Regions from separate parts of the Homo sapiens genome. Here region 2 is linked to region 1. Evidence: fine-mapped expression QTL. Tissue or cell type: testis. Region 1 holds a variant in brackets; the other region holds the start of a gene. All regions are shown on one strand. Distances are from middle to middle.

Region 1 (8,108 bases):
ACATCAATTACTGGTAGGGCCACTGTATTGAGTTTGCACATTCTCCCTGTGTCTACATGGGTTTTCTCCAGGTATTCTGGTTTCCTCTCATATCCCAAAGTTGTGCATGTTAGGTTAATTGGCGTGTCTAAATTGTCCCAGTGTGAGTGAGTGTGTGTACATGTGTACCCTGCAATAGAATGGCATCCTGTCCAGGGTTGATTCCTCCCTTGAGTGCTGAGCCGCTGGATAGGCTCCAGCCACCTACAACCCGGAACTGGAATAATTGGGTAAATAATTACCTTATTTGTTTTATTAATCTTTCTTAAATGTATGTATAACTCACATTTATTTCAGTGTTTAATATTCGAAGTGTTTTGGAGAGCAGAGCAAGATGGCGGAATAGAAGCCTGTACCATTGATAACCCCCGACAGGAACAACACATTTTAACAAATATCTGCATACTGGAAAGTTTAACAACTAACTGCATACCATCACAAGAACCAAAAATCAGAGCAATCGGAGTACCTGGTTTTATATTCATATCACTGAAAGAATCATTGAAGAGAGTAGGAGAGACAGTCTTGAATCACAGACACCACCCCTTCCCCATAACCTAGCAGCAGCCCTGCTACACAGAGAGTATATGCACTTGGGGGAGGGAGAGTGCAGTGGCTAGTGGTCTTTCTATTGAACTCAGTGCTGCCATGTCACAGTGGAGAGCAAAGCCATGCTGGGCTCAGCCAGCACTCATGCATGAAGGGAACATTTGGACCAGACCTAGCCAGAGGGGAATGGACCATCCCAATTGTCAGAACTTGAGTTTTTTGGCAAGCCTCACCACCATAGGCCAAAGTGCTCTGGGGTTCTAGGTAAACTTGAAAGTCTGTCTAGGACACAGGGATTGCAGTTCTTAGGCAACTTCTAGTGCTGGGCTGGGATGGGCTTAGAGCCACTGGACTAGGGTGGTACATGACCTGGGGAGACACTAGCCAGGGAATCTAAGGGAGTGCTTGTGCCATCCTTCCCCCAACCCCAGGCAGCACAGCTTGAAGCAACAAAAGTGACTCCTCTGCGTATGAAGAGGAGAGCAAAGAAGACTTTGTTTTGCATCTTGCATACCAGCTCAGTCACAGTAGGATATGGCACTGGGCAGTCATGAGGCCCCCATGCTAGACCCTAACTCATAGATGACACGTCTAGACACACCATGGGCCAAAAGGTAAACCGCTGCCTCGAAGGGAAGGATCCACACCTGGCAGGATTCATCACCTGTGAATAAAGAGCCTTTGGGTACTAAATAATCAGCCGCAATACCCAGGTAGTGCATCATGGCATGGGCCTTGGGTGAGACTCTGAGACGTGTCTTCAAGTGAGACCCAGAACATTGCCAGCTGTGGTGGCTATGGTGAGAGACTCCTCTTGCTAGAGAAAAGCAGAGGGGAAAGTAAAGAGGACTTAGTTTTGCACTTTAGATACCAGCTCAGTCAGAGTGGGTTAGACCAACAAGTGGGCTCGTGAAGTCCCCAATCCCAGGCCTAACCTCTTGGATGGCATTTCATGACCTTCCCTGGGCCAGAGGGAAGCCCAGTGCCCTGAAGGGTATGTCCAAGCCTGGCAGCATTCACCACAAGCTGACTGAAGATCCTTTGAACTTTAAGTGAATACCAATGGTGGTGTAGAAAACCACCCATGGCCCAGTGATAGTGGTTGCCACAGGGAGAGGCTCCTCTGCCTGTGGAAAGGGGAGGGAAGAGCAGGAAGGACTTTGTATTGTGGTTTAAGTGCCAGCTTAGCTACAGTAGAATAAAACGTCAGGTAGACATACAAGGATTTTTGACTGCAGTCCCTAGCTCCCATACACCATCTCTGGACCCACCCGGGGCTGTGGGGAACTCACTGCCCTGAAGGGAAAGACACCAACCTGGCTGGCTTCACCACCTGCTAATGGTAGAGCCCTAGGGACTTGAGTGAACATGGGTGGTACCCAGGTAGTGGTTACAGAAAGCCATGGGCAAGACCTAGTGCTGTGCTGGCTTCAGGTCTGACCCAGCACAGTCCCAGTAGTGAGGGCCAGGGGGGTAGTATGTCACTCTACCTGCAGCCCTAGGCAGCTCAGCACAGAGAGACTTCATTTGTTTGGGAAAAAGTAAGGGTAAAGAACAAGAGTCTCTGCCTCATAATACAGAGAATTCTTCAGGGTTTTATCCAAGACCACCAAGGCAGTACCTCTACAAGTCTACAAGAACCACAACCTTACTAGGCTTGAGGTGCCCCCTCACGCAGCTATGGCTTAGACCACAATACCCTAGTTCTTTCAAATACCTGAAAAACCTTCCCAAGGAGGATGGGCACAAACAAGTCCAGACTGTGAAGACTACAATAAATACCTAACATTTCAATGCTTAGACACCAATAAACATCAAGACCATCCAGGAAAACATGACCTCACTAAATGAACTAAATAAGACACCAGGGATCAATCCAGGAGAAACAGAGATATGTGACCTTTCAGACAGAGAATTCAAAATAGCTCTTTTTAGAAAACTCAAAGAAATTCAAGATAACAGAAAAGAAATTCAGAATTTTATCAGATAAATTTAACAAACAAATTGAAATAGTTAAAAAGAAGCAAAACTTCTAGAGTTGAAAAATGCAACTGGAATACTAAAGAATGCATCAGAGTCTCTTAATAGCAGAATTGATCAAGCAGAAAAAATAAATAGTGAACATGTAGAAAGGCTATTTGAAAATACATGGTCAGAGAAGACAAAAGAAATAAGGATAAAAAAGAATGAAGCATGGCTATAAGATCTAGAAAATAGCCTTAAAAGGGCAATAACTCTTAAATTATTGGCTTTAAAGAGGACGTAGAGAAAAAGATGGGGATGGAAAGTTTATTCAAAGGGATGATACCAGAAAACTTCCTAAGCCTGGAGAAAGATATCAACACTCAAGTACTAAAAGACTGTAGAACACCAAGCAGATTTAACCCAAAGACTACCCCCAAGGTATTTAATATATCAGACTCCCAAAAGTCAAGGGTAAAGAAAGGATCCTAAAAGCAGCAAGAGAAAGGAAACAAATAAAATAAAATGGAGCTCCCAAATGTCTGGCAGCAGACTTTTCAGTGGCAATCTTACAGGCCGAGAGAGTGGTGTGACATATTTAAAGTGCTAAAGGAAAAAAATAAAATTTATTGTAGAATAGTATATCTGGTGAAAATATCCTTCAAGCATGAAGAACAAAGACCTTCCCAGACAAACAAAAGCTGAGGGATTTCATCAATGCTAGATTTGTCCTAAAATAAATGTTAAACAGAGTTCTTCAACCTGAAAGACAAAGATGTTAATGAGCAATAAGAAATCATCTATATGAATATTTACAACAAACCCTCATGACGTGTTTATCTATGTAACAAACCTTCACGTGTACCCCCAAATCTAATATAAAAATTAAAATACATATATATGTACAAACTCGCTGGTAATAGTAAGCACATAGAAAATCAGAGAATATTATAACTGATTGCAAAAACAAACTGTAATTGTGGCATGTAGAGTACTCAAGTAGAAAGTCTAAATGGTGAACCAACCAAAAATGATAACGACAACTTTTCAAGACATAGTACAATGAAACAAAGAGAAACAAGACGTTAAAAAGCAGGGGGACAAAGTTAAAGTGTAGAGTTTCTATTAGTTTTCTTTTTTTTAATGTGTTTTTGTTTATGCAATCAGTTTTAAGTTGTCTTAAGTTTAAAATAATGGGTTATAAGATAGTATTTGCAAGCCTCATCTTGAAAAACGTACAATAGACACGAAAACTATAAGAAGCAAGAAATTAAATCATACCACCAGAGAAAATCACCTTCACTAAGAGGAAGACAGAAGGAAGGAAAGAAGGAAGAGAAGACCACAAAACAACTAGAAAACACATAACAAAATAGTAAGAGAAAGTCTCTACTTATCAATAATAACATTAAGTGCAAATGGACTAAACTGTCCAACCAAAAGACACAGAGTGGCTGAATAGATTAAAAAACAAGACCCAGTGATCTATCACCTATAAGAAACACACTTCACCGGCTGTGCGTGGTGGCTCCTGCCTGTAATCCCAGCACTTTGGGAGGCAGAGGCGGGTGGATCACCTGAGGTCAGAAGTTTGAGACCAGCCTGGCCAACATGGTGAAACCCCGTCTCTACTAAAAATACAAAAATTAGCTGGGCGTTGTCGCAGGTGCCTGTAATCCCAGCTACTCCAGAGGCTGAGGCAGGAGAATCGCTTGAACCCAGGAGGCGGAGGTTGCAATGAGCCAAAATCGCGCCATTGTACTCCAGCCTGGGCGACAAGAGCAAGACTCCGTCTTAAAAAAAAAAAAAAAAAAAAGAAAGAAAAGAAAGAAAAGAAACACACTTCACCTATTAAGATACACATAGGCTGAAAATAAAAGGATGGAAAAAGATATTCCAAGCCAATGGAA[G/A]CCAAAAAAGAGCAGGAGTAGCTATGCTTATATCAGACAAAATAGTTTTCTTGACAAAAACTATAAGAAGAGACAAAGAAGGTCATCATATAATGATAAAGAGGTCAATTCAGCAAGAGGATATAACAATTATAAATATGTATGTACCTAACACTGGAGCACCCAGATATATAAAGCTAATTTTATTAGAGCTAAAGAGAGAGATAGACCTCAATACAAAATAGCTGGGGACTTAAACACTCCATTTTCAGCATTGGACAGACCTCCTAGACAGAAAATCAACAAACATCAAATTTAATCTGCACTGTAGACCAAGTGGACCTAATAGATATTTACAGAACATTTCATCCAATGGCTGCAGATTACACATTCTTCTACTCAACACATGGAGTAGTCTCAGGGACAGACCATATGTTAGGTCACAAAAGAAGTCTTAAACGTTCCCCAAAAATGAAATAATATCAAGCATCTTCTCTGACCACAATGGAATAAAACTAGAAATTAATAACGAGGAATTTTGAAAACTATACAGATACGTGGAAATTCAACAATATGCTCCTGAATGACCAGTGGGTCAATGAAGAAATTAAGAAGGAGAACGGGCACAGTGGCTCACGCCTGTAATCTCAGCACTTTGGGAGGCCGAGGTGGGCAGATCACCTGAGGTCAGGAGTTGGAGACCAGCCTGGCCAATGTCGTGAAACCCCCTCTCTACTAAAAGTACAAAAATTAGCCAGGCATGGTGGCCAGAGCCTGTAATCCAGCTACTCGGGAGGCTGAGGTGGGAGAATTACTTGAACCCGAGAGGCGGAGGTTGCAGTGAGATGAGATGACACCACTGCAGTCCAGCCTGGGTGACAGAGAAAGACTCTATCAAAAAAAAAAAAAAAAGAAGAAAAGAAAAAGAAAGAAAGAAAGAAAAGAAATTAAGAAAGAAATTGAAAAATTTCTTGAAACAAATGCTAATGGAAACACAACATACCAAAACATATCAGATACATTGAAAGAGGGAAGTTTATAGCTATAACTACTAAGAGGGAAGTTTAAGCTCTAAGTACCTACATCAGAAAGAAGAAAGAGGGTTGGGTGCGGCAGCTCACATGAGTGATCCCGGCACTTTGGGAGGCCAGGGTGGGCAGATCACTTGAGGTTAGGTCAGGAGTTTGAGACCAGCCTGGACAACATGGCGAAACCCTGTCTCTACTAAAGAGACAAAAGTTAGCTGGGCGTCGTGGCAGGTGCCTACAATCCCAGCTATTTGGGAGGCTGAGGCAGAAGAATTGCATGAGCCTGGGAGGCAGATGTTGCAGTGAGCTAGGCTGCACTCCAGCCTAGGTGACAGAGCAAAACTCTGTGGAGAAAAAAAAAAAAGAAGGAGAAGAAAGACTTCAAATAAATATCCTAATGATACATCTTTAAAAAAATTAGAAAAGCAATAGCACATCAAACTCAAAATTAGTAGGAAAAAAGAAGTAATAAAGATCAGAGCAGAAATAAGTTTGAAATGAAGAAAACAATAAAAATGTCAATGAAACAAAAAGTTAGTCTTTTGAAAAGATGAACAAAACTGACAAACCATTAGCCAGACTAACAAAGAAAAAAAAGGAAAAGACCCAAATAAATAAAATCAGAGATGAAAATAGAAACATTGCAACTGATACTACAGAAATTCAAAGGATCATTAGTGGCTAGTATCATCAACCATATGCTAATAAATTGGAAAATTTAGAAGAAATGGGTAAATTCCTAGACACATAACAACCTACCAAGATTGAACCATGAAGAAATCCAAAGCCTGAACAGTAACAAGTAACAAGATTGAAGCCATAATAAAAAGTCTTCCAGCAAAGAAAAGCTTGGGACCTGATGGCTTCACTGCTGAATTCTACCAAACATTTAAAGGTGAACTAATACCAATGCTACTCAAACTATTACAAAAAATAGAGGAGGAGGGAATACTTCCAAACTCATTCTACGAGGCAAGTGTTACCCTGATACAAAGAACAAAGACACATCAAAAAAAAATCTACAGGCTGGTGTCTCTGATAAATATTAATGCAAAAATCCTCAATGAAATACTAGCAAACCAAATTCAACAATACATTAAAGACATCATTCATCATGACCAAGTGAGCTTATCCTTGGGATGCAAGGATGGTTCAACACATGCAAATCAATTAATGTGATATGTCATAGCAACAGAATGAAGGACAAAAACCATATGATCACTTCAATTGATGCTGAAAAACCACTTGATAAAATTTAACATCTGTTCATGATTAAAACCCTTTAAAAACTAGGTAGAGAAGGAACATATCTCAACATAATAAAAGTTGTGCTGGGCATGGTGGCTCACGTCTGTAATCCCAGCACTTTGGGATGCCAAGACAAGCAGATCACTTGAGGTCAGGAGTTTGAGATCAGCCTGGCCAACATGGTGAAACCTCATCTCTACTAAAAATATAAAAAATTAGCCAGGTGTGGTGGTGCATGCCTGTAATCCCAGTTACTTGGGATTACAAGAGGCAAGAGAATCACTTCAACCCAGGAGGTGGAGGTTGTAGTGATCCAAGGTCGCGCCACTGCATTCCAGCCTGGGCAACAGAGTGAGAAAAAAAAAAAAAGAAGAAAGAAAAAAGTATATGACAGACACACAGCTAGTATTACCCTGAATGGGGAAAAACTTAGAGTCATTATTTTAAGACTGGAACATGAAAAGGATGCCCACTTTTTCACCACTATTATTCAACATAGTACTGGAAGTCCTAACTAGAGCAATTAGGCAAGAGAAATGTTCTTTAACATCTAAATTGTAAAAGAAGAAGTTTCATTATTTTTATTTGCAGATGATATGACTATATATTGGAAAAACCTAAAGACTCCACCAAAAACTATTAGAACTGGTAAATAAAGTCAATAAAGTTGCAGGACACAAAATCAACATACAAAAATCAGTAGCATTTCTATATGCCAACAGAGTACAATATGAAAAAGAGGTAAAAATAATCCCACATGTAATAGCCACAAATAAAATTAAATCCCTAGAAATTAACTTAACCAAAGAAGTGAAACATCTCTATGATGAAAACTGTAAAACACTGATGAAAGCAATTGAAGAGGATGCAAAACAATGTAAACATATTCTATATTCATGGAATGCAAGAATTAATATTTTTAAATGTCCATGCTACCCAAAGCAATCTACTGATTGAATGCAATCTCTACCAAAATGCCAATGACTTTCCTCAAAGAAATAGAAGTAATAACATGGAAAACATGGAGAAACGTCATCTCTACAAAAAACTTAAAAACTAGCTGGGCATGGTGGTGTGCACCTGTGGTCCCAGCAACTTGGGAGGCTGAGGTGGGAGGACTGCTTGAGCCCAGGAGGACAAGGCTGTGGTGAGCCATGTTCACACCACTGCGCTCCAGCCTGGATGAGAGAGAGACAAAGGAGGGGAAGGGGGAGGGGGAGGAGGAGGAGGAGGAGAAGAAGAAGAAGAAAAAGAAAAGGAGGTCTTAAAATAGGTGAGTAAGTTAAATTGCCACTGGCCAATATCTTCCACCAACTTTGAAAGCTTTGCTGACGGGTTGGTTGTTTTAAATTAAAACTGTGGGAAAAATTCTGTGTCATATCTGCAGGCCTCT
Region 2 (8,087 bases), 140 kb before region 1:
TTTACAATTCCTATGACCTATGAAGATGTAGAAAAGTGTTTATCACACTGATTTTAAATCCACTCTTAAATATCCAATAGGCAAAAGCTGGAAGAACTTAGAGTAGCCTTAAAACCTTAGAAGAAAACAATATATTATGGGATGAAAATGTGGTCTTCTGGGGTTAAGGGCTGATATCTTGGATCATTCTTCCTTCTGCTTTCTGTTCCTCCTGTGTTTCTGATAGGCAAGTTTCTTACCCTAACTTCAGTTCCAACTTACTTTCCACTGCAGCAAATTAAAAAAACTTTACACAAAAACTAGAGGTTTATCTGTAAGGGAGGTACTGTCTGAAGCTATTAAGAGTTTTTCTCTACTATGAAAGTGTAGAGGGTCCGATCATAATCAAAAGAGACGAGGTGACAAGGGGGTCATTAACATAAGCTAATTTTAAATAGGAGTGTCCATTTGGTTTAAGTGTTTAATCTGACAGCTTTCTGACTACGGAATTTGAAAATCCTCGCCATGGAAAGCCCAAAGAAAATTAATACTGTTACTTTCTTTGGTATACCCTATTCATCTCAAATGTGAATAATTGTTTATTTGCATTTTGTAACATTTCTAAAAATAGTCATTATGAACAATTCTTATTTTCTCATTCAAGAAGTTCCAATCAAGTTAAGTGGAAGTAATATTGTCACTGAGACTGTGGCATGCCCAAACATCTTATTTTCACATAATCTATCCCATTTCTAGCTCCCTTCTTTAGGTCATTTGGATACTTTATTCACCTGCTGAAATGCCTTTAAACCTAATATGAAAGATTAATTAGGGAGCTTACCTATATTTATGAAATACTTGCTTTGGTATAAAGAGCAAAGTGGACATTACTCCATGTTCTTTTTTTTTTTTTGTCAGTCTTGCTCTGTTGCCCAGGCTGGAGGGCAGTGGCATGATCTCGGCTCACTGCAACCTCCACCTCCTGGGTTTAAGCAATTCTTGTGCCTCAACCTCCAAGTAGCTGAGATCACAGGCATGTACCACCCTGCCTGGCTAATTTTTGTATTTTTAGTAGAGACAGGGTTTTGCCATGTTGGCCAGGCTGGTCTTGAACTCCTCGCCTCAAGTGATCTGCCAACCTTGGCCACCCACAGTGCTGGGATTACAGGCATGAGCCACCATACCTGGCCTGCTCCATGTTCCTAATCAGCTAAGACCTGCAAACAAAAAGCAGCCTACTCAAGATTCATAGGAAGCATTTTTACTTACAATTCCTCTCCTCGTTTGGCTTTCTTGTCTGAAACCAGATAGACAGTTCCAAAACTTCCACTGCCAAGTTTTTGTTGAAGCACGTATCTTCTTGCAATCAAGGTCTTTGGATAAGTGGAAATGGCTGTTGATCCACTCACACACTTAGCTGCCTCTTGGAATTTCAGCATTGCTCCAAACAAGAGAGAACTGGTTCATTCATTTATAGAAACTTAACATTCCAGTCTCCTAAGAAATGGTCAAATTCATCCAGTGTTGGTCAGTTCCTTAAAGATGAAAAGTTAAAAGATCAGGTCTAAAGGTTGCTAAACGATGTCTAACAAAAAGTGTTAAGTGCAGTGATATCTGCACCTTGATCAGCAGACTGACACCATATTGGTTAACAACTTGAAAAAAAATGTTAAAAGGTAGAGATACCACAAATTCCAGAAGGCAATCTTTCACAGGAAGAGCCTCCCTTTGTACATTGAAATTTGGCAGAAGTGAATTATAGCCAACTTTCCACAAATTTCTGGGATGTACATCTGTTTTACAATGAGCAATCTCTTCATTTATTTAAGATTTATACTCCCCAACTACTTATAAAAGAATCCAAATACAAGAACATTATCACCTCCTTAAATCTATACATCTGCATCAACCTTTTTGTAATGCCCTCTTCTCACCTTATATTTACTTTGGTTTACAAAGAGTGAGTTAGGATTAAACAAGGAATTAGCAGGTGCTGTTTCCTTTAGATTTATTTTTTTCTGTAGATGTTAAACCACAGTTTTTGTATTTATTAGGACAGATGCAAAGAAGGATAAGGATTGAGAATTTTTTCCCATGCTCAGCAAATTCTAGTTTCTGAAGTTCCTATTGTACACATTGTGTATAATCTCTCTGGATTAAAAACAGGAAGAGTTACAAATTCAATTCAAACCTAAAATCCCATTTAATGTCAGTGGAATATAAATGCTACAGATAAATCTGTAATTCCTCAGGGAGCTATGAGACGTGGCAGTTATGAAAGGCAGGACTGTTTAGGCCGGGCGCAGTGGCTCACGCCTGTAGTACCAGCACTTTGGGAGGCCAAGGCGGGCGGATCACGAGGTCAGGAGATCGAGACCATCCTGGCTAACACGGTGAAACCCCGTCTAATACAAAAAAATTAGCCGGGCATTGTAGCGGGCGCCTGCAGTCCCAGCTACTCGGGAGGCTGAGGCAGGAGAATAGCGTGAACCCAGGAGGCGGAGCTTGCAGTGAGATCTCGCCACTGCACTCCAGCCTGGGCGACAGAGTAAGACTCCATCTCAACAAAAACAAAAACAAAAACAAAAACAAAAAAAAGAAAGGCAGGACTGTTTCATATGAGTAGGTACAAAGTAAAATCACTTTTATTTCATCAGAATGTTAAATGTTTTGTTAGTTATCAAGAAAAGTGTGCTTTTGTTTTAAATCTATATAGAAATAACATTTTAAATTGAAAACTGCCTACACCTTGAAGTTAGGTTTTCATATTCAACAATTCCAAAGCTATGAGACAAAAACCTAGTTTTTAAGGATGGTCAATGGGCTTTACGTGGTGGTGTCCGTCAACCACAAAAACTACTAGGGCAATTAACCACAAAAATCCTCAAAACAGAACATAAGTAAATGCCCATTTACAACATTTTCCTTCTTAAAATGTATGAATCAGTTAAGTTGTACCTAATACCAGTGAGATTAGTTACCAGCTTTTTCTTTTCCCTTCCAAAGACACGTTAGTAAAATCTGCTGGAAAAACAACTACAGAGCAGGCCTCTAAATATACCTTTTGTTTTTACTTCCCCTTCACTGTCATAAAAGTGATGCCGTCTGGCCATACTAAGCTGTTCAAATAAATATATGGACTTACAGACTTTCCAGCTGAAAAGGGTCCTTCAGGTCACTCAGTAATTCTCCTTATTTTAAAGATGAGATTAAGGTTCCTTTTAGAGAAGGACAGAATTAGGGACGGACAGAATGAGAAGTTCACTTCTAGCGGCTCTTATTTTAAAGGACAGTCTAAACCCAGCAGTGCTTAAGTAGTCTGGTCCAGGCTGCAGAAGACTCTGGGACTAGGTTCCCTCCCGCCCACCCTCACAGACTCAGCCCTGCCACCCCCATCCCAGTCCACTTTTAGGTCATCCATTCCATTAGTCTCCTCTGCGCAACCATAAACCTACCCAAGAATGTGTCGCATTGTCTAGATTCTAGAACTATCTGTTCACTTGACAACACGCTCCCCCTCGAGGTTTGAGTGAACTTGGGCACTGCGAACACATCTTCTTTATTTCTGCATCCCCAATCCCTGGCATACCTCCTGGCATATACTAGGTGTTTAACAAACCTTGTTAAGGCAAGTAAGTGTCCAGCAGATCAACTGCCGCCCAAAGGAGAGAAAAAAGGTTAGTTAAGAAAGCTAGATGGGAACTTGGAGAAAGTTACTACCTTGTGCAAACTACCCGTTCTCGGTGAAACAGATCTGGCTGGGGGCAAAAGACAACGGAAGGAGTATTTATCACAAGTTGAAAACCAGTAGTTATCTTCCCAGGTAATAAGAGGAAGGCAATTTGTCACCAGTTTCTGCTACAGCACAAATCTACCTTTAAAGTAAATCTTAACCTTAAGGTAAAACGAACAATTCCTTGCTTCTTCACCTTTTTAAACATTTACATTTTGGCAAAGCAGGTTAACGTTTATTGAGGGGCACTGAGACTGGAGTACATCCGGAGGTAAGATGTCCAGGAAAGCGAGGAGATCGCAGCCATGGCGTCCTAGAGATTCGGAACCCAGCCCGGGCAGCTTGAAACCATTACCTTCCCCCTCGCAGGGGAGCCTGGCTAGCCCCAAGGAGGACAGTTCGCTTTACCTTTCCCTGTCGTGGTCGGAGCGGCGCCCGGGGCTGCCCAAGTCTTGCGGGTAATCGGGCAGGCCTCAAACTAGGGGCAACCACACCCACCGAGCGCCAGACACCGCGGGCCACGGCTGTTTGGAACCGTGGCCAGGGAGACGGCGCGGGGCATACTGGGAAGTCGGGGCGAGGCGGCACCAAGGCGGAAGTGTTCGCCGACCCAAGTAGGCGGAGAAAGCAGAGGAGGACCGGCGGGCCAAGCTTTCCTAGCCTGACAGCAGCCATTTCGGAACGTACGTCCCAGCCCTCTTTAGCTACTTAGCGCCTCTGGGCCCGAGAACACCTGCTCCTTGGCTCAGTCTGGCGCCACCGGCATCACGGAACTGTACTTCCCAGAGACGTCACACCGGGAGACTTCCGATTCCCGCTCTTGAGATTGGACTCTCACGTGCAGGAGCCAGTCCTCGCTGGGCTCTAGCGGGCTTCTGATGGAGGAGCTACTCCTCTGGGAGGACAGAGTAGGTGGGCTCTGCTGCAGGTCCGGGCGGCGGGTTGTGAGGGCCGAGGTGGCACGGTGTATGAAGGCCTGTGTTTGAAGACTTAGGTCAGACCTTTTGCCCGCCTTTCCCCTATGCAGCTCTATGCAACTGTCTGTGCAAGGTCCTGTAATTTGCGTAGGACGCCTTGACACAGTCTCTGCTTATGGACGCTTTACAAAACTATCTTGCAAAGAAATAAGTACTATACAGGATAAGGTTCTGAGATACTGACAGGGCTGGAACTAGGGTGAGATAAGTGTAAAATGTAAATGGATGCCAATAAAATTCAGTAATCAAGGTAAGTTTTAATGCAATCTCTAAAAATCAAAATTATAGCAAAAAAAATCCATGACTGACAAAATGTCACGATTTTAAGTAATAGTAACAGTACCGTGCTGTGCCATATTGAAGCCCGAGGTGTCAAAAGAAAAACCATCAATTCTGATCCTGCGAGTTAAGTTAGCCAGGTGAGGAAGCGTAGCTGGGCCAGATATGCAAAATAAGATGATGAAAAGAGCTCGTGGTTAGGGGTGTAACTGGATAGAGGGGTTCCTAGAGGCATGAAGCAGTTTTCCTTATACCAAAAACTATGCCAATTAAGAAGGGCCCACAAATCCAAAGCCTGAAAGAAGTTCCGTGACTGATTGTCAATACAAAAGAAAAACTTGATCCTTATCATAGGTCCTACACACCTTACTTTACTGAAGCCCAAATGCTTTGTGATTATGAGATGAATATGATATCTTTTTTTTAGCTTAGGACTTTTTACTTTGACCCCACAAAACAAATACTCTGTGCTGTAAGATGTTGACTATTACCACTTAAGAATCAAAGTTCACAGAACTTCTATACTGGTGTGTCAGTAATGGACTTCAACTGATTTTTCTTTAGAATTAGCAGCAGCCTCTGTCACCATCCAAAGATTACAACCCATGAAACCATTGAATTTGTGCCTTGTATCAGAAAGCAAAGGAGAATGAAAAAGCACAGCTAACATTGCTTGAGGATCTAGGTAAGAATTTATGATGTTGATATCTATGTTCTATCTAAAGAGCACTTCATAACATTTGCTATTGATTTAATGGTGCTGGAAGCAATGACTTGGTGCCCCATAACTAGCATCAATTGAAAATGTTTTCTGTTGTTTTAAACAGGCGATTAATTCTTTAGACTGTCATCATGGGTATCCGAGGACTAATGAGTTTTGTGGAAGATCATAGTAATGAGTTCTTCACTGATTTGAAGTTGCGGGACACAAAAATTGTCATTGATGGTTATGCTCTTTTCCACCGTCTTTGCTTCAGTTCAAACTTGGATCTCCGGTATGGAGGGGACTATGATTCTTTTGCAGATGTTGTACAAAAATTCTTTGAATCACTGTTTGCTTGTAATATATGCCCATATGTTGTATTAGATGGAGGATGTGACATTTCAGATAAAAAGCTTACAACTTTAAAGGATAGAGCTAGAGAGAAGATCCAGATGGCCCATTCCCTTTCTGTTGGTGGGAGTGGGTACGTATGTCCCTTACTCATCCGGGAAGTATTCATACAGGTTTTGATCAAGCTGCGGGTGTGTTTTGTCCAGTGCTTTTCAGAAGCAGATCGGGACATTATGACACTTGCTAACCATTGGAATTGCCCTGTGTTATCATCAGATAGTGACTTTTGCATTTTTGACCTGAAAACTGGGTTTTGCCCATTGAATAGCTTTCAGTGGAGAAATATGAACACTATTAAGGGCACACAAAACTATATCCCTGCCAAATGCTTTTCCCTTGATGCATTCTGCCATCACTTCAGCAATATGAATAAAGCTCTACTACCTCTCTTTGCGGTGCTATGTGGAAATGACCATGTTAATCTACCCATCATGGAGACATTCTTAAGTAAAGCGCGTCTTCCTCTTGGAGCTACCAGTTCTAAAGGGAGGAGACACCACCGAATCCTGGGACTTCTGAATTGGTTGTCTCATTTTGCCAACCCTACCGAAGCACTAGATAATGTTCTGAAATACCTCCCAAAAAAGGATCGAGAAAATGTTAAGGAACTTCTCTGCTGTTCCATGGAAGAATACCAACAGTCCCAGGTGAAGCTACAGGACTTCTTCCAGTGTGGTACTTATGTCTGTCCAGATGCCTTGAATCTTGGTTTACCAGAATGGGTATTAGTGGCTTTAGCTAAAGGCCAGCTATCTCCTTTCATCAGTGATGCTTTGGTCCTAAGACGGACCATTCTTCCCACACAGGTGGAAAACATGCAGCAACCAAATGCCCACAGAATATCTCAGCCCATCAGGCAAATCATCTATGGGCTTCTTTTAAATGCCTCACCACATCTGGACAAGACATCCTGGAATGCATTGCCTCCTCAGCCTCTAGCTTTCAGTGAAGTGGAAAGGATTAATAAAAATATCAGAACCTCAATCATTGATGCAGTAGAACTGGCCAAGGATCATTCTGACTTAAGCAGATTGACTGAGGTAAGTATTTGTAATACTAATGAAATTTTTGTAAAGTACTTTACAGGATACAAAGTGCTGTCTTCTATATTAGTTCACTTACTATAACAAACTGATGAGGTTGAGTGCTATCTTGCCCTCATGTCGTAGCTAAGAAATCTAGAACTTGAGTGAACTAGGTAATGTCTTAGCCAGAAAGTGTCAGTGCTAGGACTCAAACCTAGCTCTTTTAGCTCTAAATCTACCATTTCCACTGTACTTCAGTAGTCTGTGTTATCGTCACAGTTATTACTACTATATTGTTATTACTACCAGGTTAATACTAGCTATCAATAGAATGGGTTACGTGGCTGAAAAAAAAAGGAAAAAAATTCACAACTGCAAAAAAAGTGTATAGACACTAATCATAGGCACAACATCTCAGACTACATCGGATTTCAGATAAGGTTAGTACTGATGCTAAGGTCTAATTTTTTAACTTTTATTAATGAATACCTTTTTTAAAATAGGTTTTTGTGTCATTATGGTTATTTGCCTAGTTTGATACAGAAAACATGACTCTTAGTCTAACTTAGTGTTGCTTAAACCTGAGTAACACCCAGACCACCTTTTCAAGGAGAAAAAAATTCTCATGGATCCCAGTGTTGTCTTTTTATATTACATATATATTTAAAATTACAAATAGATATGAAACTATGCTGATAAAAGAACTAGATTTAGACATTAAATAGAGATAACTTAAAAAAAAAACAATTGCAATGCCCATTAGGGGATCTTCTTAGATCCAATGAAATATTCAGTCTCACAAAACTCACAGACCACACGTGGCACCAGTCTACTTAAGGATGTAGGACGGCAACCACAGCTTCCCAGTGGATTTAAGTCAGGTCTTCCTTTTCTGTCAGAGTTCTCCCAGCACTGTTATCAGTCTACACCAAAGCTTTATCACCATTGGTGATTTTGTCCCCCAGAGGACATCTGGCAAT

The links. PIP is the estimated chance that this variant, and not a neighbour inherited with it, causes the effect.
Region 2: NEK11 starts here. The variant in region 1 is fine-mapped to the expression of NEK11 in testis (GTEx, PIP above 0.99).

What each region holds. Positions count from the first base shown.
Region 1 is chr3:130,881,189-130,889,296 of GRCh38, reverse strand. All of the region lies in intron 1 of LOC107986023 (a long non-coding RNA gene), which reads left to right. It also overlaps a transcript of ATP2C1 not described here. Among named protein-coding and RNA genes, the nearest start is that of ATP2C1, 8.8 kb to the left of the region's middle. The variant G/A (reference allele first, on the strand shown) is at 4,461.
Region 2 is chr3:131,023,040-131,031,126 of GRCh38, reverse strand. NEK11 (NIMA related kinase 11) reads right to left here and starts at 4,250. Exons shown (of 18, transcript NM_024800.5): 1 at 4,121-4,250; 2 at 3,125-3,197; 3 at 1,249-1,514. The coding sequence starts at 1,418. It overlaps ASTE1 (asteroid structure-specific endonuclease 1), which reads left to right and starts at 4,302. Exons shown (of 6, transcript NM_014065.4): 1 at 4,302-4,620; 2 at 5,533-5,653; 3 at 5,796-7,122. The coding sequence starts at 5,821. RefSeq lists enhancers at 3,941-4,130, 4,211-4,270, 4,411-4,650.